Homo sapiens: one gene and its partner. The protein of the gene in region 1 purifies or fractionates together with the protein of each later gene. This does not show direct contact. Each region holds a gene or a part of one and is shown on either strand. Other genes may lie near its edges. The genes, in order: RASL12 and ARHGEF17.

Region 1 (11,820 bases):
AGGGAAGGTCCACTCCCCCACTCCCACCCCCATTCCCTGGGATTCTGGGACAAGTTGTGCATTCTTATCAAATGTGTTCGTTTCAAGCCAGACCCCTCTCAACTTTCTGGAAACACATTGGGTTATGGTTCCAGGTGCATGGGATTGTCCTTGATGAGCCAAGATCTTGGGCTTCCATTGAGATAATTTGTGTCAACACTGAACTATGCCACTCCTGGCTGGCTGAAGGAGGGAGGGCAGAAGGGGTCCTCCACTGGCTGTTTTTCCAGTTTTAGCCGTTAGTGATGGCCAACCCAAGCTCAGCTGGCTGTGGGTTTCCTCCCCAGAGTGTTCTGTAAGACTCACTGGGGGCCTACTCTCTGATTTTGAAGCCAGCCCCACCCCCAGAGAGGGGACTCTGAATCTGGTTTTCCTACAGAAGGGATTACCCTCTTCCTTTGAAAGATTTGCCCTTTGAAAATCAGATTGTTATCCGTAGCTCTGTAACCGGTACCGTTTAGCCAGTGACTACATAAAAGAAAGAATTTAAATTTTAAAATATGTATTCCCTGGGTATTAGTTTGCAAACTGACACCGTTAGGAATCCTAGGAAAGAATTTTAAGGATTTTATTCACAATGTCACTTTTTTTTTTTTAAGACAGTGTCTCTGTCACTCAGGCTGGAGTACAATGGCGCGATCATGACTCACTATAGCCTCAAACTCCTGAGCTCAAGTGATCTTCCCTCTCAGCCTCCTGAGTAGCTAGGACTACAGGCATACCACCATGCCTGGTTAATTTTTCAATTTTTTTAGAGATAACAGTGTCACTGCATTGCCCAGGCTGGTCTCAATCCCAAAGCACTGGAATTACAGGCATCCCATTACTTTTCTTTCTTTCTTTTTTCTTTTTCTTTCTTTCTTTCTATCTTTCTGTCTTTGTTTCTTTCTCTTTTCTTCCTTCCTTTTTCTCTTTCTCTTTTCCCTCCCTCCCTCCTTCCCTTCATCCCTCTCTTCTTCTTTCTTTTTTTTCTTTCTTCTTTCTCTCTCTTTCTTCTTTCTTTCTCTTTCCTTCTCTTTCTTTTATTCTCTCTCTTCTCTACTCTTCTCTTCTCTTCTCTTCTCTACTCTTCTCTTCTCTTCTCTTTTCTTTTCTTTCTTTCCAAACAAGCAGTAGCGAACATTACTTTTTGAGGGTCCAGTATAGTAGTTGGCTGGTCTTTGCTTTATATGGCTACACTCTGAACCAAAGAGAGCTTAATTCTTGAGTTTTACATTCTGCTGAGATATCCATGATGAGTGTAGAGGCCCCAGAGAAAGCCAAGACTTGCGATGTGGGAGACCAGGACCAGAGTGTGTTTCTTCGGGACACAGACCTCACCTGGACCTTACCTGGAAAGCCCAGGCACTTGGGGATTTATACCCTTCCCAAAGATCAACCACTGCAATCAACTCTGCTCTTCCTGTGTTTTTGGCTTGTAGCTAAAGCCTGGAGTAAATAGCCCCACACTTCAGAATCTCTGTGACTTGTCCGGGGTGGGCGACACCTCCCTTCAGTTGAGGTTTCACCAGGCTGACTCTAGGGTAATGGTTGCATGGGTCCTGACCCCTGAGTTCATACCTTCCAAACACCCCTTAGGCTTGCCACTCATTGCTTTCCTTGCCATTAAAAAAAATTCCCACGGTGCAATTAGAGGCACTTGGCTCCCCGTAGTTCTGGTTTCCTTCTGAGCCTTTCAAACCAATTCCTCAGTTCCCTAGCTTCATTCTCTGGGAGAGCTGAGCTTGGTGTCAGCCGGGGATCACAGAGGTTAGATAAGGCCTCCCTTAAACGAGGGGCCAGCAGCTAGACATGGCCGCGGAGATGGAGCCAACCTCTTTCTGCTTCTTGCAGCCCTGACCGTGAAGTTTCTGACCAAGAGGTTTATCAGTGAATATGACCCCAACTTGGGTAAGAAACTACTCCCCGTACCTTCTGCTGCCTGTGCCCCATCTGGAGTGCTCTCCTGGGACCCACCCCGTGGGTGGGCACTGACCAGGACTGCATGTCTGGGGACAGAAGGGAGAAGCCGCCAGGATGACCCAGCCCATGGGGGAAAATGTTTTAAGTGTCAGAAATACCCCTTCCACAGCCCACCCCAGACAACTGGGGGGTTGGCCTAATTCACAGAACTAAGAGAGGCTGATTTACCCTAAAATATGAGGTGTGAAAAAACTTTAAAAAATAAAAATAAACATAGCAAGACATCCACATCCAAACAGGTATTATTCTTGGGCCGGGTGCGGTGGCTAATGCCTGTAATCTCAGCACTTTGGGAGGCTGAGGTGGGTGGATCACCTGAGGTCAGGAGTTAATGACCAGCCTGGCCAACATGGTGAAACTCCGTCTCTAAAAATACAAAAATTAGCTGGGCATAGTGGTGTGTGCCTGTAATCCCAGCTTCTAGGGAGGCTGAGGCAGGAGAACTGCTTGAACCCGGGAGGCGGAGATTGCAGTGAGCCAAGGTCGTGCCACTGCACTCCAGCCTGGGCGACAGAGGGAAACTCTGTCTAAAAAAAAAAAAAACTCAAAAACAAATAGGTATTATTCTTCAAGATGGTCACTCAGTGTTCTCTTCCAGAAAACCTGGGCAGGACATTCGAGAAATTCTCTAGTGGTGCTGGCTTCTGAACCAGTTTTTTAACCGTATGAGAAAACAACTGTTGTTTTCATCGCTGCATCATGGTATATTGGAAAAAGGAACGTTTCGGTGTCAGTCAGAGCTGGGTTTGAATCCTACCTGGCTCTGCTCCTTATTGGCAACCTTGAGCCAGTCAGCTAACCTCTCTGAGCTACTGTTTCCTCATCTGTAAAATGGGCATTAAAAAATAGTTAGAGAATTGCTGTGAGGATTAAAGAAATAGCACATGTAAAAGATCCAGCCTAGTACTTGACCCACAGTAGGCACTCAATGCATTTTTGCTTTTCCTTCCTCCTCAAATGGATTCCCATACACAATAGCTTAGATTCCCTTCTAAAACAAATCAAAGCAGGATTTTATTAGTATAAATGTTGCTTAAAGCTCACATGTATAACATTTGTCTATTGTAAACTGTTCACTGAGAGCCATAAGGTGTCTGGATGATCTTAGCCTTTAGAAAATGGGTGTTGCAGTCTTGGATTATTTTCCCCATTCATAAAAATCAATTAAAGCATTCATGGGACCCCTGAGAGCCCTCCAAAGAAGCCCAAGGCTTTGTGACACAGTGGAAACCCCCTGCGCTCCCTGCAGCAGGCCCCTGATCCAGCGCTCCTGCCGCACCTGGAGGGGAGAGCTCCTTACCCTAGTGGTGCCCAGCCCCTTAGTTCAGGCTGGAGTCCAGCACCAGTGTTGCAGCAGGCAGAGACATCAGGGCTATTTAGTCCCCTTGTTTAAAAAAGCTTTTCCTTAGGTAGCAGAATCCCTTCTTCCAGATTTTAAACAGAACCCCAGGGTGTCAAACAGAGAGAGCAAAGGGGTTCCCATGGGTAAGTCAGGGATGCAGGGCAGGTGACATGGTGACAGTCCCTAAGAGATTTGTTCCTCGAAGCTCTGCTTGACCCCCGGTGCCTTGGCACAGCCCTTCAGTGCTACAGTGGAGGAAACAGGCCCAAGGAGCTGAAGACTCTGGGCCAAGGTCACCCAGAGGAGGCCCTTTGATTAGCAGAGGTCAGCTCCAGAGAGAGGAGGACACAGGATGCAATGGTGCACTGGCCGGCGAGGTGTTGGAAGAGGCCAGAGCATGGAATAGAGATGGGGTGGAGAAACTGAGGACAGAGGTGAGGTGGGAGGACAGGAAGGAAAGGCACACAAGCAGACACAGTGTCTGGGAAAGGACAAGGGGAATTCCCAAGGGCAGGGACTCAAAAGACATATTCGGCCTAATTCAAATATTGCATGGGTCATGCTTATACCAAAAATTATTCCTTTTTTTTTTTTGAGATTCAGATTTAACTGGGCATCTTGTATTTTTCCTGGCATCTCACCTCCAGTCTGTCTTCCTCCCTGCCTTCCAATCGATACTGTCACAGGGTGCCACCGGATGAGCCTATTAGGGTGGTGGTTTGAGCCTCCTGATTGAATAATTTTGGAGTTCTGACCTGGTAGTGGAATGCGTGGGCAGACTGTCTGGGAAGTGGGCAGCCCCACAATGGTCAGTCCCCTTGGTCTGTGGTCTCTCACACTACACTGACAGCCCACGAGTCAGAGAGCCAACCAGACATTCTCCCCTCAGACTCTCTGGGAGGCCAGTGCCACTCCTCGAAGGTTCTGCTAGGAGGGGCCTAAACATTCCGGCCACTGTCCCATTGTTGGTTCCAGCAGCAGCAGAGACAGATGAGAACCTTTCCTTCTGTGGATAAAGGTCTCCACATTCCATTGGGGAGCTAGCCATCAGCAATGCTGGTAAAACAACTCTCTAAGCCCTTCCTAGGTCTTCTGAGAGCCTGAGCTCATTTGGTGAGCCTTGAGGGTGGAGATTCATTCCCATTTCCAGCAGGTAGCACAGTACTAGCTTCAGTGTAGATGAGGGTTTAACTGGGGGGGTGGTAAATTTTGGTTTTAGGATTACCCTTTAAAGAAGAGCTCCTATCACGATCCTCATTTTATAGGTGGAGAAATGGAGGAAGAGAGGGCTCAGTGATTTGCCTTAAGATTATGGAGACCCTCAGGCACAAAGGAAGACGAGGCATGGCTCCAGTTGCTCTCCGCTAGGAGCAGCCTCATGTCATAGAGGGCCTGGAGTCAGAGGTCTGTGTGGCATGGGGCCCTCTGAGCTGTGGTTTCCCCATCTGGAAGATGGGACCAATAGCCTGTGCTCTGGCTGTGTAAGAGTTGCACCGTTTTCTGGGGTGTGGCTGTTAGAGCTGGTAGTAGCTGAGAGATTCAGTGTCTGTGGAAGGGCTTTGCCTGTGCTGAGACCCGCAGGAGTGGGCAGGCGTCTCCAGGAGAATATTCTCCTCTCCCAGAAGGGCTGAGGGTGCCTCATCTGGCTCAGCCAGGGAAGAATGTCAGCTTCTCACTCCTCTTGCTCTCCTCCTCCTCCAGCGAGGACATAGGCACCATTTCTTTTTTTTTTTTTTTTTGGTCACCCAGGCTGGAGTGCAGTGGCGCAATCTCGGCTCACTGCAAGCTCCACCTCCCGGGTTCACACCATTCTCCTGCCTCAGCCTCCCGAGTAGCTGGGACTACAGGTGCCTGCCACCCGAGTAGCTGGTACTACAGGTGCCTGCCACCATGCCCGGCTAATTTTTTTGTATTTTTAGTAGAGACAGGGTTTCACCGTGTTCAGCAGGATGGTCTAGAACTCCTGACCTTGTGATCCGCCCACCTTGGCCTCCCAAAGTGCTGGGATTACAGGTGTGAGCCACCACGCCCGGCCCAACATAGGCACCATTTCTGAGGCAGCACCCTGTATACACTCTGACGTGAGCTTCTGTGGTGCCATTTAAAAATTATTACTATAAATGAGAGGAAAACATCGGCAAATTCAAAACTTTGGGAAATGACTCTTCTCTCTACCCAAAAGTCCACAGGATATTAATTACAACCAGGTGTTAGGAAACCCATATATTTAAGGACACCAGAGTACTCTGAGGCAGGGACTTGATGATAGGAAGTCTGGACATTACTGTGACTGGGAAAGGAGCCCCTCACTCCTGCCCCAGCCCCTGAGGCCTGTCACTTCTTCTATAAAGGGAGGCTGGACAGTACGAGCTCCAAGGCTTCTTCCAGCTCATGCAGGCATGTTCCACATCCCCACCAGACTGGGCGATTCTGGTCTTCCCTTGTACTCTGCCCAGACAGAGCTGGAGGGTGGGCTGATTCACTGAGCAGTCACGGGGTGAGGGGGTCCCATTGTGAACACAGCCCAGCCTGGAAGCCCTGAGTTCAAGTTCCTTCTGCTGATTAGGTGCTGTGTGGCCTTGGGTGAGATCCCTTCTCTGGGCCTCACCTTGCCATCTCTCTACAATGGAGCTAACAGCAACCTTGAAAGGCTGTCATGCTGTGGGCAGGAGACCAAGGTTGAGCTAGCGCCTTTCACTGGGCTGGGCAGGACACTGCGCCCATTGAGGGGAACTCCTAAAAGGGGTGCATCTGACATCTTTGACTGGAAAATAAAGACAGATCTGAAAGCGATGTAAGCATCTAGGGGCAGCTCTTCTTGGACCAAATATAGTTAAACATTTGGAACATAGTTTCCATTAGATTTTTTTTGTCTTTGCATAAGAGCAGCTATTTATCCAAGTCCCCAAAGCAGGCTGGGGACAAGAAGCTGTCTGTGATTCATGCTGGATGCTAGTGGACCTGGAGTGTGTCCAGGCCAGCTTGGCTGCCAGTGGCCCTCAGAAAGAAGTGTTTGACTATAAATTCAGCCAGGGTTGGGGGCGTGCCCTCTCACAGTGGATGCTGCCAGGAAGGCAGAGACCACCCCAGTTCTGCCAAAAGGTGACTTCTTTAGGGTCACTAGGGGCAGGGGACACCTAGGGAAAGGTGATAACCAAGTGCACTCACACATGTGGGCCAATGACACAGGCACAGATTGGGGGTGCAGAGAATGACTGCCAACATGGCCGCAAGGTCCTCTGCATGCCTGGCCACTTGTTGCTTTCTCAGATTTGAGATCATGAGAACCATATATATAAAAAAAGTAACAACTCGAGAAATTCAAATAAGGTCACTAGTTTGGTTCATAGTATGGTATCAATGTAAATTTCTTTTTGCTCATTGGGCTATGGTTATGTAAGGTGATGACACTGGGGGAAGCTGGGTGAAGAGTACACAGGAACTCTACTATTTTACAACTTCTATGTCAGTCTAAAGTTATTTCAAAAGTTAAAAAAAAAATCACCTGGGAATGTGATCCTGCCCTATTAACTTTGGAACACCATCATTCCCACTGCCCTCACCAGGCATGTATGGTGAGCCAGGCCCCATGCCTGGGGGGCCCATCCAGTTCTTACAGAGCCCTGGGAGATGGGACCGTTAAATGAGCTAATGTCAAGCACTTAGCACAGCGCCTGGGACAAAGGAAAGGCTTGGAAACTGTTAGCAATGTTATCACAGTGTTCCCATTTTAAAATGAGGAAACAGCCTCAGAGAGCTGAAGTGATTTGGCCAAGTCACAAAGCTAAAAAGCAGCTGACATTGGGTTTAATACCACATTCTCCAACTGAAAACTTCTGACTACACTAGACTCCCCTGCTGTCATGTTGACAAGGATTATTTGTAAAACCTTCTCGGAACTTCTAAAAGGGGTCTGACTGCCATTCCTTCCATTGTATTGTGTACTTCTCTTTTCCCTTGTCTCTTCTCCCACTGGGGACAGGAGGTTGGTTGAGGGGGAAGAGAGTGGGAAAGCCTGGGGTTCTGGGATAGAGGGGCTAGCAGTGTTGCTCCTGAGCCAGCCTGTGCTGCTAACAGGGTCTAGGGGCCACACACTCGACTCTATCCTGCTGGTTTTGTGTGTGGATCCAGAACACAGACCCACCCCCGAGGTGTGGTCTGTGAGTGACCACTGATGCTGAGCCCTGCAGGTGGAGCAGCATCTCCTTGGTGGGAGGTTCTGCCTGTAGCCTCCATGTGGGTGAGAACCAAGGACTTTCCAGTGGTCCCAGCCCCAGAGCAGCTGCTAAGGTCCCCCCAGGCCACACAGGGGTCTAGCACAGAGGGAAGCTCAAACTTACACCCAAGGCACTGTGTCTGACCTGGCTAACCATCTGTGTTGTAGAGGACACCTACAGCTCCGAGGAGACTGTGGACCACCAGCCTGTCCACCTGAGGGTCATGGACACTGCAGACCTGGTAACATTACCTCCATTACCTATGCACTGCTGTGAGTCAGTATAGCCTCCTGAGAAGTCCTGGCCCAGAGTGCGGGACCTCAGATAGGCATTTAGATGCCTTTTAAGCTCAACTTTGCTGTGTAACCCTGAATGAGGCACTTGACCTCTCTGGGTCTGAATCCTTCCTTTGCCAAATGAGAAGGATGGGACAGGGCCTGGAGAGACATGATGGTTGCTGGCATCTGCTCTGAGATCCTGTGCTGTGGGGCTCTGTGCCTGTGCACACGAGGAGACAGGTGCACACCTGTTTACACAGATGCTCCTGGTGAGAGCCCCTCGGCCCAGGTCTCTCCCACACACAAGTCTCCCCCCATGTCCTCACCACCCCCTGCCAAGGCTGGATGCCAGTTACTCTCAGAAGCCAAAGGGGCAGCATGAACTCAACCCAAAACCAGTGGTGCCCAGGGACAGCCAGGTCTCTGTAGGGACCATGCCAGAGTCTTTGGCTCTGGGCCCAAGGGGCCAAGGTCTCCAAGTCTCTGGCTGGGTGGTGGGAGGGAGGTTCATGAGACAATGTCTCCTTTCACACCAAGCCAAATCCACACTCAAGTGCCCCTTTGAAAGGGCTCTGCTGAGAAACAATATACAAAGACCGGGGAGTGGGGAGGTGGGATTGGGCGGCTCAGGTGAAGGCCTTTACCCCAACCTCCTCTGCCCCCCGGCGGGGCTTCTCACCTTCACCCCAGGACACCCCCAGGAACTGCGAGCGCTACCTGAACTGGGCCCATGCCTTCCTGGTGGTGTACAGCGTCGACAGCCGCCAGAGCTTTGATAGCAGCAGCAGCTACCTGGAGCTGCTTGCCTTGCACGCGAAGGAGACACAGCGCAGCATCCCTGCCCTGCTGCTGGGCAACAAGCTGGACATGGCTCAGTACAGGTGAGCACAGCCTGCTTGGCCGTTATCTCCAGAGCTCGCTTTCTTCACTTGTAAGGTCAGGTGGCATCTTGAGGGATTAGTGGGCTGCTAAGAACAGTCATCCCCTTGAATTGTGGTAGAAGGGATTATATGTTTGTTTGTGTGTGTGTTTGTTTTCTGAGACAGAGTCTCACTGTGTCACCCAGGCTGGAGTGCAATGGCACCATCTCGGCTCACTGCAACCTCCACCTCCTGGGTTCAAGTGATTCTCCTGCCTCAGCCTCCCCAGTAGCTGGGATTACAGGTTCCTGCCACCATGCCAGGCTAATTTTTGTGTTTTTAGTAGAGATGGGGTTTCGCCTTTTTGGCCAGGCTGGTCTTGAACTCCTGAACTCATGATCCGCCTGCCTCAGCCTCCCAAAGTGTGGGATTACAGGCGTGAGCCACCGTGCCCGACCACAGGGATTATGTTGTAAGGGTATGGTAGATGTTGGTCTTCCAGGCAGCCAAGGACTTGAAGGGAAACGCTTCTGGGTCACACAGCAACTGCACCCTGAAAGTCAGAAGAGTGGCCACTCCTTCCGCGCTCTTGGGTCTCTGTGGATTCTCTTGGACTCACCCTTCTTGCATGAATCTATCTGACCTTCCGATCTCACTCCCAGCAGCTGACTGGTCTAGTGCCCAATTCCAATTCTAAGGAGAGAGGCTCTGATGGGCTCCTTGGTCAGGTGTCTGCTCTGGTCCAATCGGCTCTCACCTCACCCAGACGCAGCCTCCCACTCTCACTCCCACAGTTGGCTGGGCTGAGGGCAGGTTCTCTTAGAAAGGGTTGGACTCGAATCGGAGGTCAGAGACTGGGCCAGAGGATGCATTACTGAAGAATACTGCAGCCATATTTTGCTTGGCTGGCATAGTGTCTTAAAAGACCTAGAATTGGAATGCTTTGAGGTGGGGCACGCTCTCTCCAGCCGACCCCAGGCCTCACCACTCCCCGTGGTTTACCTCCACCCTTTCCACACATTCAAGTTGCCCGCCTGGCCCTGAAGCATTTGACACTGTGATGCCTGAACTTGATGAGTAATGCCACTGGATTTCTCCAGCACTGACCTTTGTCCTCTGTGGCCAGTCTACCTGCAAGGGATAGCCCCTTCCACCAGCCACTCATCCCTCCCTGTTCACGGTTGGTCAGTCCTGCTGCCCTAGGCCCCAAGGGCACATTGACTGGTGTTAGCAAGGAAGGGACCCTTTGTTTAGAACGGGTCAGATGGGCCGTGGGAAAAAGAGAGGTGTGGGACCGTGAAAGGGGACTATGGTGAGAGGCCTTCAAAGGTGGCCAAGCCCTCAGACCTAGGCAAATTGTGTCTCAGAGAATGAGGGAAGTCATGTGACCTGAAAGCTGCTGAAGGTAGTCTTTGAGGAATTGCAGACCCTCTTAGGGGTCAGAAGACTGGATTGTGAGTAGGCCAGTTTTCAGTACAGGGAAAAAAGCACAGATCACTCTTTTGACCCCAATCTTTGCCAAAGGGATTGTCTAAAATGGTTTGGGAGCAAATAACAAAGCATACATGCTCAAATGAAGCTGATCCCACCCGTTCCCTAAAAACAACTCAGGACAATGTATTCCTATTTCATTCTTCGATCAAGTCCCAAGTTTAGTAGATTAGGATTCTGGGAAGCACAGGAAGTCTAACTTTTAGCTGAGCATTGGCCATTGTCTCCCACGACTGTCTCACTGTTAAAAGGGTAAAATGTCGGTTAGGTTGATGCTTCCCAAGCCACTGATAAAATTTTCCCTAGGATGCAACAAAATAAGAAAAAGGACAATGTTCTGTGCCTCTGTCACCCACTCACACACATGCACGCACACATGGGGTTTGTGTTTGTGAAAATTCATTATTCAAGCCCCCACAATGACAAAGTTGCAGATTCAAGCTCATCATAAAAGCAAATAATAGCAAGTGTTCTTTCCAAAAGGGTTCCTCAGGAAGCGGTGAGCTTACTGGCACCACGGCACCCAGCCCTGGGTGGGGAATAGATCCGATGCCTCTGACTCTTTTTTGTCCCAGTTACTCACTCTCTCTGAGACCGCGTGCCTCACCATGGAGTGGCACTCTGGGAAGCTAGCCCACTCTCAGCCCCTGCTCCTGCCAGGTCAGCCTTGGGCTCAGAAACTTTTCCCACCATGGCCCACTCGAGTGCCTCCTCTCATCTAGTGGCTGTGCCATTATCCTCGGGAATGGGCAGCGGGACAGCTCAGCAGTAGGTCAGGAAGATCCAGCCAGTGGAGTCTTGGCCCCAAGATCTCAGGGACCCCCCCATCTCTTCCCTCTTGTAGACATCCGACCTATGCAAGGCCAGTCTTCTTTTTCTTCCCGCCTCGATTCCCATGGCTTTCAGGTCAGAAGCCTCCAGGACCTTCCCAAGTTCCGGATATTCTATCCTCCCTTCACGGGAGGTGGTGTAGGACCAAGGCAGAATAGGTGTTGCCCCCTCTCTCCTTTTGCCCTCCTCACCATGAAATGTTGTCCCCCCTGCCCTCTCCTGCCTCTGCCCTGGTTTTATTATTTGCTTTTATGATGAGCTTGAATCTGCAACTTTGTCATTGTGAGGGCTTGAATAATGAATTTTCACAAACACAAACCCCAGGAGCCCTGAGAACTCTGCCAACCACAGGCTTCTGGAGTCACCTCTGTGGTCTAACCCTTCAGTCCAAACGACTGCTTCTCTCTAGAGCTGATCCCACAAGCCAGAGCTGTGGGTGGCCTGTTTCCTGCCCCAGGGACCCACGATGGGGTAGAGAAGAGATGGGGCTGGGAATGGCCTGCTTCCTCCAGCCACAGGCAGGGTCTAGCATAGGGGATTTGGAGTAGCTTCTTACCCTTACCCTCATCCCAAAATTCTGGCCTGGGTGACATCAGCTACCATTTATTGAGCACTGACTCTGTGCCAGGTACTGTGCTAAGCACTTGAAACAAATTGTCTTTCGTAATCCTAACAACCCTGAGAGGCAGAGGGCAGTAACCCACTGTACTGATAAGAACGCTGAGACTCAGAGAGGTGAAGATGACCCCAGGCCACCCAGCTAGTCCATGGGGCGCTGGGTGTAGGAGCTGGTCTGCCTG
Region 2 (11,820 bases), on another chromosome or scaffold:
GGAAGAGACATCCCTTTCCCTCATCTGAAGGCAAAAATCGCAGCCTCCCTGCGTATGGGGGAAGTAACATGTTCCAGGTCTGAGGGTGGAGACATAGCTGCATCCCCATCAGAGGGTGACAGAGGCCCCATCCCCCATATATCAAAGGAATCCAGGTCTGAGGGAGGAGACAGTCTCACTTGCTGTCTAAGGAGAGAGGCAGGTCCCCACACATTAAGGGCAGGTGCAGGCTCTGGTGAGATGCTGGGGCCTGAGGCCTGGGCCCTCTTCCCCACAGAGCCTGGACGATGCACTGCGGGACCTCTCAGCTGCCATGCACCGGGACCTGTCGGAGAAGCAGGCGCTGTGCTACGCGCTTTCCTTCCCGCCAACCAAGCTGGAGCTGTGCGCCACTCGGCCCGAGGGCACCGACTCCTACATTTTTGAGTTCCCTCACCCTGACGCCCGCCTTGGTTTTGAACAGGCCTTCGATGAGGCCAAGAGGAAGCTGGGTAAGCCAAGGCACATGTTGGCCCTCTCCTCCTAGAGCTTCCAGGCAGGAGGCCAGAGGCATCTCACAGCTGTCTGTGACTTCAGGAGCCAGAACCGCAGTGCCCTGTGCTCCGGCTCCACCTGGTGGGGAGGGGGGCTTCTGCAGTGAAACATCAGACTGAATAATAGCTGTGGCCTCCCTGGCAGGGAGGGGATTCCATGGATAGGGTCTCACTGTCTGCTGGACCTGCCCCATAGTGGGCACCGATAGCCAAGACCCTCGCCATACCCTCCCTACACACACTCTGAGCAGGGCTGGATCAGGGAAAGCGATTGATCAGGGTTCATGGCTTAGAAGATCCACAGAGACCTCTGGGTCTAACCCCAAGACAATACACATGGGAAAAGATTGAGGCCAGGAGCAACTGCCTTATTCTAATGTGGCTGGGATCAGGCCTTCCCCTAAAGAGACCCTGAGGGGCAGGGGAGGAAGGGGAATGGGGCAGGGGCAGGACCAGGGTGAGATGGATGCTATGCTAAGCAGGGTCCGTCTGTCTGTCCATCTCCACTACAGCATCCAGCAAAAGCTGTCTAGACCCTGAGTTCCTGAAGGCCATCCCCATCATGAAAACCCGCAGTGGCATGCAGGTATGTCTGCATCTGGGTCACTTGGGTACATGTTTTCAAAGCCAGCAGGTGTTCATGAATTTTTGTGTACGACATTGTGTATATGCCGTGAACATTGCTATTGCTCCTTATGTCTTGGAGAATTCAGCTCTCTGTACATGTGTGTGGGTGCTGCATATGTATTACATGTACACATGTATATGGGTATGCTTCGTGCATATCTGTATCTGTGCATGTGAACAAAGGTTATATGAATGATGGGAAGTAGCTTCATTTATGTGCTTGTATGAGGCTGCATACATATGTACAGAGGTTACCAGCATCACATTTTTTCTATGCATGTATCCATGATTATATCTGGGGATATGTGTGTGTACATGTAGGCATGATGCCTGTATCCCATAGGCATGAGTGCATTTGATGTGTAGAGGGTCACATGGGCAAGGTGCGGTGGCTTACGTCTGTAATTCCAGTACTTTGTGGGGCCAAGTTAGGAGGATCACATGAACCTAAAAGTTCAAGACCAGGCTAGGCAAGACCCTATCTCTACAAAAAATTCAAAAATTATCCACGTTTAGTGGCGCGCCCCTGTGGTCCCAGTTACTTAGGAGGCTGAGGTGGGAGGATTGCTTGAGCCCTGGAGGTCAAAGCTGCAGTGAGCCATGAACCCACCACTGCACCCCAGCCTGGGAGACAAAGCAAGAACCAATCCAAAAAAAAAAAAAAGGGTCCTGTGCCGCGTGTATGTGTACGCGTGTGTAGAAGGGTGTATAGGGCATCCACACACACACACCCATGCAGGCCTGCCTCCCTCCATTCTGCCGGGGTTTCCCAGGAGTGGGGAATGCTGGCAGCAGTTCCTCCATTCACCTTCTCCTGTCCATTGGCGCCTCCTGCAGTTCTCCTGTGCGGCTCCCACCCTGAACAGCTGCCCGGAGCCCTCGCCTGAGGTATGGGTCTGCAACAGCGACGGCTACGTGGGCCAGGTGTGCCTGCTGAGCCTGCGCGCCGAGCCGGACGTGGAGGCCTGCATCGCCGTCTGTTCCGCCCGCATCCTCTGCATCGGGGCGGTGCCCGGGCTGCAGCCTCGCTGCCACCGGTGAGGCCTGGGCGGCGGGGTGGGCGGCACCGCGGGCCTGGGAGAACCAACCCCTGTCCCAGCACACTCTCAGGCCGCCCCGGCGTGGTTGTGGGCGGGGCCCGGCGAGTGTGGGCGGGGTCGGTGGGCGTGTCCACCACCGGGGCCCCGTCTGGCTCGTAGCTGCTGTCATCCTCACTCCGTCTTCTCGCAGGGAGCCTCCTCCGTCGCTGAGGAGTCCTCCAGAGACGGCACCGGAGCCCGCCGGGCCGGAGCTGGACGTCGAGGCCGCTGCAGACGAGGAAGCCGCGACGCTCGCGGAGCCGGGGCCGCAGCCCTGCCTTCACATCTCCATTGCAGGCTCGGGCTTGGAGATGACGCCGGGCCTCGGCGAGGGTGACCCCCGCCCAGAGCTGGTGCCCTTTGACAGTGACTCTGACGATGAGTCTTCGCCCAGCCCCTCGGGGACGCTGCAGAGCCAGGCCAGCCGGTCCACCATCTCCTCCAGCTTTGGCAGTGAGCTTTGGCCATCTCCTCCAACTTGGCCTTGGCAGGCAGGGTGGACTGCCCAGAGGAGGGGGAGAGGAGGGACCAGTGTAGGGCAAAGGCATGGCGTCAGACCTCAGGATGTTAGCACACAGAGCAATGAGGGCAGGGGATGTGACACCAAGGATCCAGAGGACAGTGGGACAGTCAGGCGGGATCATGAAGACCCTGGAGCACTCAGCTAAGGAAGATGGGGTGCTGGTGGAGTGGGGACCCACGGTGTGGCCACTGGGTCTGAGGGGCCAGGCAAGATCAAGGATTCTGTAGTGCTGAGCTGTCGGTGAGCAGGGCAGCAGGGCAGCAGACCGGAGCAGGCCGGGGAAGAACAGCTTTGAGAGGCCTTCCGGAGGGGCATGGCCAGGAGGGATGCATGGCCTAGAAAGATATCAGGTCCCAGGCCTGGCAGAGGGAAATGGAGACAGAGACCTTTGTCTCCCTCAGATGAGGAGACCCCGAGTTCCAAGGAGGCCACGGCAGAGACCACCAGCTCAGAGGAGGAGCAGGAGCCAGGCTTCCTGCCACTGTCTGGCTCCTTTGGGCCTGGTGGTCCCTGCGGCACCAGCCCAATGGATGGGAGAGCCCTTCGCCGCTCCAGCCACGGCTCCTTCACCCGGGGCAGCCTTGAGGACCTGCTGAGTGTCGACCCTGAGGCCTACCAGAGCTCCGTGTGGCTGGGCACTGAGGATGGCTGGTAGGGACAGGGGAGGGACTAGGGACACAGTGCCAGAACTCTGAGCTCCCTGCTCTGGAAATCATGTGGTCCCCTGGAGCCAAGGCAGGAGGGCTTTGGGTCACACCTCAGGGGTACTGCTGACCAGGGATGTCAGTGGGTCTGACAATCCCAGGGAGGCTGTGGGACCTCAGTACCTTGGGCAGGCACCCAGCATTGAAGACGTGGTGCTAGGGGCAAAGAGGTGGAGGGATGACTCCAGGGGCTGGTGTGCCCCAAGCATTTGTCCCAGGTGCATACCCCGATCCACAGTGTCCACGTGTACCAGTCCTCCGACAGCATCCGTGACCGCAGGAACAGCATGAAGCTCCAGCATGCGGCCTCTGTGACCTGCATCTTGTAAGGCCCCAGGGTGGCCCTTCCTATCTAGACTCTTCTCAGCCACACGTGCAGGCCTCCTTCTGTTCATCTGGTCCCCCTGCTCTACTGTCCCTCCTCTGTGTGGAGGCTGGAAGCCAGAGGCCTGGCCCTAGGCTAGCTGTGCCTCTTACACACTGTGTGAGCTCGGGCAAGTCACCCCCTTTTCTTAGCCTCAGGCAACCCCCACCTGGAGAACAAGGGGTGGGAAGAGGTGGCCTCTCGGGAGCCATACCCATTCTATCTGTGGTTCCCCTGGTCCTGGGTGACCCACTTTGGCTGCCTGAACTCCCTTACTGCTTCCTCTTTTCCCTACCCAGGTATCTGAATAACCAGGTGTTTGTGTCTCTGGCCAATGGAGAGCTTGTGGTCTACCAAAGGGAAGCAGGTGAGTATCTGCCCTCCCCCACACCCTGCCCCTGTCCCCTTACTGGTGTTGGGGCTCTCTCCTGGAGATGTGGCTTTGGGCAACTCCCAGGCCCTCTGTGGGCCTTGGTTTCTTTGCTTATAAAAGGGGAATGTTAACATCTCATTTCAGGGGAGACCGAGGCTCAAATTTAGAACTGGAGTGAATTTCCTGTTTTCTTTACCCCACTCCAGGCCATTTCTGGGACCCCCAGAACTTCAAATCAGTGACCTTGGGCACCCAGGGGAGCCCCATCACCAAGATGGTATCTGTGGGTGGGCGGCTGTGGTGTGGCTGCCAGAACCGAGTCCTTGTCCTGAGCCCTGACACGCTGCAGCTGGAGGTAGCAGGGGGTGGGGGAATGGAATTGGTGCCATGGGATGAGCTAGGTCCGTGTGACAGGGAGATGGAGACCATGGTAGGGGCATAAGCAGCATCCAGCAGAGGGCTAGGGCCTTCCTCTGACCACAGAGTGACGCTGGCCAGTCCCTGTCCTCCTTCGATCCTCATTTCTTCTGTAGCTGATGAGGAATACAGTAAGTGTCCCATATACATTAGGAATCTTATTCATCCTCCTGCCCACCCTATCTCTCAACTCAGGTTTTAGGGTCCTTTGGGGATAGGACAAGAGTCCTTTCTGATGTCAACATCCATTAGCATTAGACTCTGGCATTTATTGCTGCACATGTCACTTGCACACATGTCAGAAGTATCCAGGGGCAACGGGTTCCCTTAATTTCCCTCACTTATTCCATTGTTGGCTGGGCAGGAGTCCAAAGCCCTGGGTTCAGGCCCCAGCTCTGTGACTGACTTGCTGTGTGACCTTTCCCTTCTAGGCTTCAGCTTCCCCACCTGTCCAGGGGGAGGCCAGTGACTGATTTTAGAACCCTTTAAGCATTGAAGTTCTCTGATCCTTAAATCACTCAAGTTTAATGGGGAAAAAGCACCTCCATTGTAATTCCTGAGAACTAAGTTGGGAGGTGCTGGTGAAACCAAGCTTCGAAAGGTTAATCAGACCAAGGACCAACGCTAGTGTGAGTTGTGAGGGATGGACACTGGTGAAGCTCCAGGCTAGGGTGGGCCAAGGGAGGCAGGCCTGCCAATGACCCATCTTCTCCCCCGCCTTCCCCAGCACATGTTTTACGTGGGTCAGGATTCAAGCCGCTGCGTGGCTTGCATGGTGGACTCCAGCCTGGGTGTGTGGGTGACATTGAAAGGTAGTGCCCACGTGTGTCTCTACCATCCAGACACCTTTGAGCAGCTGGCAGAAGTAGACGTCACTCCTCCCGTGCACAGGATGCTGGCAGGTACTGACCTCAAACTACCACAGCACCCTCCTTGGAGCCTTTCTGCCCGATCGTAGAGGCGGCTGAGCCAGGGCCAGAATTCAGCCCCAGCTGTGGTCTGTCTCCCACCCCAGGCTCGGATGCCATCATCCGGCAGCACAAGGCTGCCTGTCTGCGAATCACAGCGCTGCTGGTGTGTGAGGAGCTGCTGTGGGTGGGCACCAGTGCTGGTGTCGTCCTCACCATGCCCACTTCGCCCGGTACTGTCAGCTGCCCACGGGCACCACTCAGTCCCACAGGCCTCGGCCAGGGACACACCGGCCACGTCCGCTTCTTGGCTGCAGTCCAGCTGCCAGATGGCTTCAACCTGCTCTGCCCAACCCCACCACCTCCCCCAGACACAGGTGGGTCAGTGCATCATACCCCAAGCTAGGGATCATGGACATTTGGTTTAGGACTCCCCACTATCCTGCCAGAAGAGCTTTCAAGAGGGAGGAAAAGTGTCACATAGAGCTGGAGGTGGCATATGTGACAGGAAATACACCACGGAAGTGTCCAAATGAAATCTAGGATAGTTGTGTGTGTGTGTGTGTGTGTGCGCACCTGCATGTGTTGTGTGTATATAAAGTTCTATCCAGAGAAATGTCATGAGAGACAGGGAGGGAACTATAACCTAAGAGGTAGAATATGTCACAAATAGAATATGTATATAGAAAATATGTCCTGTTGTATATATTTCCTATATGCACCAGGAAATAGCACAGGACTAGAAATGATATATAGGGCAGGAAGTGGAATCAGGAAGTGATGCACAGAGCAGGAAATAGAAATAGCAACAGAAAACAACATAGAATGGCACTAGCACAGAAAATGGACTGATAATTAGAAAGTGAAACAGCCGGGTGCCAGGCGCGGTGGCTCACACCTGTAATCCCAGCAGTTTGGGAGGATGAGGTGGGAGGATCGCTTGAGCCCAGGAGTTCAGGACCCAGCCTGGGCAACATGGTGAGACACCATCTCTACAAAAAATACAAAAATTAGCCATGTGTGGTGGCACACACCTGTGGTTCCAGCTGCTCAGGAGGCTGAGCTGAGGTGGGAGACTCACTTGAGCCCAGGGAAGTCGAGGCTGCAGTCAGCAGAGATTGCACCACTGCACCCCAGCCTGGGTGACAGAGTGATACCCTGTCTCAAAAAAATAAAAATAAAAATATGGCCGGGCGTGGTGGCTGACACCTGTAATCCCAGCACTTTGAGAGGTTGAAGGGGGTGGATCACCTGAGGTCAGGAGTTCGAGACCAGCCTGGCCAACATGGTGAAAACCCATCTCTACTAAAAATACAAAAACTAGCTGGGTGTGGTGGCGGGCGCCTGTAATCCCAGCTACTCGGGAGGCTGAAGCAGGAGAATCACTTGAACCAGGGAGGCGGAGGTTGCAGTGAGCCAAGAGTATGTGCCATTGCACTCCAGCCCAGGCAACAAGAGCAAAATTCCGTCTCAAAAAAAAAAGTGAAACAGCAGGAAATGAGGTACATCAGGAGGCCACAACCAGAAAAGTCTTGCTTTGGCAGGACAAGAAATGATATTCCCAAGAGGAAGTGGCTGTGGAAATCAGGAAGCAATAAAGCCTCGGGTCAGGAGTTGTCTGGGTTCACAGAAGACTTAAGCTACCTGGGAAAGGGCTGTTGGAAGTAGGAGGCTTATTTAATGCAAGGACGTTGCGTGCAGTAATCAAGAGAGATAGAAAGTGGCATCTTACAGGGCACTTACATTGTAAAAAGAAAAAAATCAGAAGTGGCGTCACCTTGGGAAATTATGTGACTCCTGACTAGAGATTACAGATGGGACATAAGAAGTCTGGCTGCCAAGAAGTGGGCATTTCTTTCTAAATAAGTTCCTAGCTAACAGAAAGTGGGATTCCCCCATAGGAAGTGTGCACATCTTCCTTCCTATCTTCTGGGGTGTGGGAATTCAGGCCCCGATGGGACAGTGAAGCCTCCATTCGCCCCCAAGCTGACAGATCCTCCCCTCTGCCCCCAGGCCCCGAGAAGCTGCCATCACTGGAGCACCGGGACTCCCCTTGGCACCGAGGCCCCGCCCCTGCCAGGCCTAAAATGCTGGTTATCAGTGGAGGTGATGGCTATGAGGACTTCCGACTCAGCAGTGGGGGCGGCAGCAGCAGTGAGACTGTGGGTCGAGACGACAGCACAAACCACCTCCTCCTGTGGAGGGTGTGACCCTGTCTGCCGTGGCCCAGGACTCGCCCGCCCACCTGCCTTCAGCCTGCTTGCCTCTCCCTAGCCCACACGCAGACTTTGACCAGGAGTATCCAGCCAGGGGCACACATGTGCCTGCGTGGGCTCTGCCTTGTCTTCGCGGAAGCATTCCTGATGGAACACCCACTGGCCAGCCAGGCCATGGCTTCTCCCGACCCTCTGGCTGCCCCGGTGCTTCCAGTCATGATCGGGTGGGGGACATGTGGGCTGACCAGGACCTCTGACCCTGGAGCTTCTACCAAAGACACAGCTGGGTCTGGACCCCACGGGGCTGGGGAGGGCCATGTGCAATATTTGGAGGGTTTTCTGGAGGGCAGCAGGAAGGCTGGGGAATTCCCCATGTACAGTATTTATGTTTCTTTTTAGATGTGTACCTTCCCAAGCACTTATTTATGCAGTGACCTGGTCACCTGGGGTGGGGGTGATTTGAGGAAATGACATGAGGAAAAGAAACCTATTCCTGCCCTGGGGACCACCCTGGGACTCTAACCAAGCCTTCCTGGAGGGACCCATGCGCCCCTGAGCCCCATTCCATTCATACAGACACACACGTACGCACACTGCATGTCCAAGGCCCTAAACATTGCCCGTTGACATAAACTTTCCAGGGCCCCAGCCTGATGGGGCTGCCCTCAGTCCTCTAGATCAAGATGCTGACTATTAGGGGGCAGTGATTGCCATCTGGGGACCTGTCAGGCTTTGTCATTTCCCAGTTTGTTGGTGGTGCCTTTAGTGGTTCCCTAATTTGGGAACACTGATGGGGCCTTGGACAGGGCTTTCTCTCAGGTAGGAGAAATGGGCCCATGATCTCCTCACAGTCGCCCCCAGTCCTTGGCCCTGCTTCCCTGTGTCTCATGCACTGGCACATATGGTCACCTTGGAGGGCAGACCTAGGAGCCCCTCTGACCACTGAATCCGTCTCCACACCCCTTCTGCCAAGGGAAGCCCCTTCAGGAAGGACCCCCCAAAGCTGAGGGGCTGAATGTAGCCTTTTCAACAGAGAAGGCTCCCACTTGAGAGCAGCCTCTACCTGACCCCCTGGACCACAGAGAGCCACTCTGACCCTCAGCCCCCTCGCTTCTTCAGCTAAAACTCCAAAGGTTTGGTTTCAGATGGGGTTTGTTTTGTTCTGTTTGGTTTTGGTTTTGTTTGGGGTGGGTGGGTCATTGCGGTCTTAGATTATGTTTCTCTTGCTACCAAACAGTCATGTATTAACTCTCTTTGGATGATGAAGTTTAAAGAGTCAATAAATAGAAACACCAGATGACTGCATTGGTGGCCACAGTGGCCTCCTGTCAGCAACCTCAGGGCTCAGTCTCCCTGGCCACATGGGCCTTCCGACGTCCACACACTTGGGAAGAAGGGAGGCCTTGGAGACCCAGAAGAGTGCTGGACGGCGAGGTTGCCACGATTTGCTGTGTTACCTGGGCAGGTGGCTGGGCTGCAGTTTCCTCATCAGGAAAATAAAGGGGTTGTACCAGTTCAGTGCTTTGTAACCAGGGTTACATGGTAGAATCCCTTGCAGATGACATGTAAATGCAGAAACATGATTCGTAACTTATTTACGTATTAATTGAGAGCTTCTGAGTCAGTGGGCCTGGATGGAGCTTGGGAATCTGAAGCTGACATGCTCCAGGTAAAGAGCCAGGACCCCTGTTGAGCCTGTCTACGGCTCCTCCAGGAAACAATGTTCTCCAGCAAAGCCTCAGCTGGAGAACCCTGATGAAGGCCAAGGCCCTGCTCCAACCCTCTGAAGTGTTTGGAGCAGGGATAGAATCCAAGTCTGTCTGATTTCTGGTCTGAAGAGGTCTGTCATTAAATCAGACACAAGAACGCACAGGCCCAGCAACATGGGACTATTCTGTGCAAGGACAGAGAGCCCTCCAGACCAGAGTGCACCTGCAGAACTAGAGGTGGCCATCACTAGAAGGCATGTCGTGCCTCAGCTCTGCTACACGCACGAACGTTTCCAGCCTAAATGACTGACTTTTGAGTCAGCCCCTGAAGGGGCATGCAAGCTCATGCTCTGCAAACTGGCAGCACACCTCTCAGGGGTCTGCTGGGTCCTCAACACCACAGGACGGGCATGGACCGTCTCCGTGCAGCATCATTTTACTGGGGCTATCTGGGGAGGAAGGGATTCTATTAATAAGCACAGATATATTATGGAGTAGGAGGCATCATTCATGTGGAATATATAACGAAACAAAGCATTAGAAGAAACACAGGCTTTGAAGCTGGACAGACCTTGTTTGAGATCTTGACTTTGCCGCTAACTAGCTATGTGCCTTTGGGCAAGTTGTATCCCCTCTGAGCCTCCATTTCCTCACGTGTGAAATGAGGCTGATGATCCCTTCCCGAACAGGACTGCTGCTTGGCGTGCACAGGTCTTTGGATTGCAAGAAAGAGATTCATTTTGCTTGTGAACTAGAAGGGTGCTTATTAGTGAAGATGTGAGCTGGCAGCAAGGAGCTGTCACAGGGCACTGTGGCCCAGACATCAGAGCTGCATCTCAGGACATCTGGCCTCTCCACTTGAGTCGCCAGTGCCTCCCACACTGCCAGTCAGTTGCTGTTCCACTGCTTTCCAGCTTCTGCTGCCTCAGGGCCTCCGCCTCCTCCACTCGGAGGACCCTGGGCAGACTTCAGTTTTAGCACAAGATACCCAAGACCAGATCCTCACCACTTCCCCGACTCAAGTGCCTCAGTAAGAATGGGCTTGGCCCAGCCCACTGTTACTTAGAGGCCCACATTCCAGGGCACTGGCCAGCCTGTGGACAGCCCGGACCCCATCAGCTGTGGGCAGGGAGGCCCTGGAATGAGCATCAGACCCCAGGCTCCCGGCCCAGGGGAGGCTCCTGGAAGGATTACCTCCTCTGAAGCAGTGGTTCTCAGCCTGGGATGCACATTATGATCATGAGGGCCTAGGCCAATTCCAAGCCAATTAAATCTGAACTTTGAGGGTGGGACCCAGGTGTCTATATGTTTTTCAGAAACCTTTAGTTGAAGTATAACATTTATACAAAAAAGGACATAAAAAAGGACCCAGCGTGATGGGTATTCATAAAGTGAACACACCCAGGTCAAGGAACAGAAAATCTCATCACCCCAGAAGCTCCCCTTAGACCTCCTTCTGGTCTGCCCTCCAAGGGTAACCACCACCCCGGCTTCTGACACCATGATCTAGCTTCACCAGCCAAGGTAGAGAACTGCTGCTGTAAAGGGAATGACTATGGTTAGCCACTGGTGTGGGGGAAAGTGGGGCTTGGGTTTGATGTTAAGAGGGAACGCCAGCCTGGCCAACATGGAGAAACCCCATCTCTACAAAAAATACAAAAGTTAGCCAGGCGTGGTGGCGTGCACCTGTGGTCATAGCGACTTGGGAGGCTGAGGCGGAGAATTGCTTTAACCCAGGAGGCCAAGGTTGCAGTGAGCCGAGGTTACACAGCACCCCATCCTGGGTGACAGAGGGAGACTCTGTCTCAAAAAAAAAAAAAGAACAGCTCAAACCAAGGCAAGGAGGGGTAGAGGAGCCTGGTGCAGGCCCAGGTGGATGGGGAAAGAGGAAAAGGCAGGGGCGCCTAGATTGGGAGCTCCGTGAGCGTGGGATTTTGTTCTTTGTTCCATCCCCAGGCCTGCCACAGTGCGTGACACACAGTAGATGCTCAGTAAATATTTGTTGAATTAAATCTGGAGAATTCAGGTGAGAACCAACTCTAGGTCTTGAATGCCACGAAACAATAAACCCAGCTTCCACTTAGTGTTTGCTGCAAGCCAGGAGCATGGATCATCTCGAATCCTCACAATGGTCCTGGGAGGTTGATACCATTATTACCCTCCTTTTCAGATGAGGAAACTGAGGTTCAGAGAGGTTAGATGCCTTCCTCAAGGTCACCTAACCACTAATTGATAGAACCTGGAATCTGTCTGCTCAGGTCTCTGTATCTCATGGAAGAGGAGGGCTGGCCTGGTGTGGCTGGAGGACAGGAGAGACAGCCTGAGCACCCAGAGTCACATGTAGTCACTCATGAGGCTGGACTAATG

What was found.
Region 2: the proteins of RASL12 (region 1) and ARHGEF17 purify together in Homo sapiens (affinity purification with mass spectrometry; 3 studies listed by BioGRID and IntAct, with this or other methods). This does not show direct contact.

Annotation. Positions count from the first base shown.
Region 1 is NC_000015.10:65,055,326-65,067,145, reverse strand, and holds part of RASL12 (ras-like protein family member 12), read left to right. Parts: intron 1-1,872; coding exon 1,873-1,929; intron 1,930-7,727; coding exon 7,728-7,801; intron 7,802-8,528; coding exon 8,529-8,719; intron 8,720-11,820.
Region 2 is NC_000011.10:73,360,043-73,371,862, forward strand, and holds the end of ARHGEF17 (rho guanine nucleotide exchange factor 17), read left to right. Parts: intron 1-277; coding exon 278-491; intron 492-1,045; coding exon 1,046-1,119; intron 1,120-1,997; coding exon 1,998-2,197; intron 2,198-2,390; coding exon 2,391-2,692; intron 2,693-3,163; coding exon 3,164-3,413; intron 3,414-3,704; coding exon 3,705-3,791; intron 3,792-4,129; coding exon 4,130-4,197; intron 4,198-4,409; coding exon 4,410-4,558; intron 4,559-5,347; coding exon 5,348-5,522; intron 5,523-5,635; coding exon 5,636-5,905; intron 5,906-7,541; coding exon 7,542-7,738; 3' UTR 7,739-9,346; downstream 9,347-11,820. UniProt on the Homo sapiens protein: Acts as a guanine nucleotide exchange factor (GEF) for RhoA GTPases.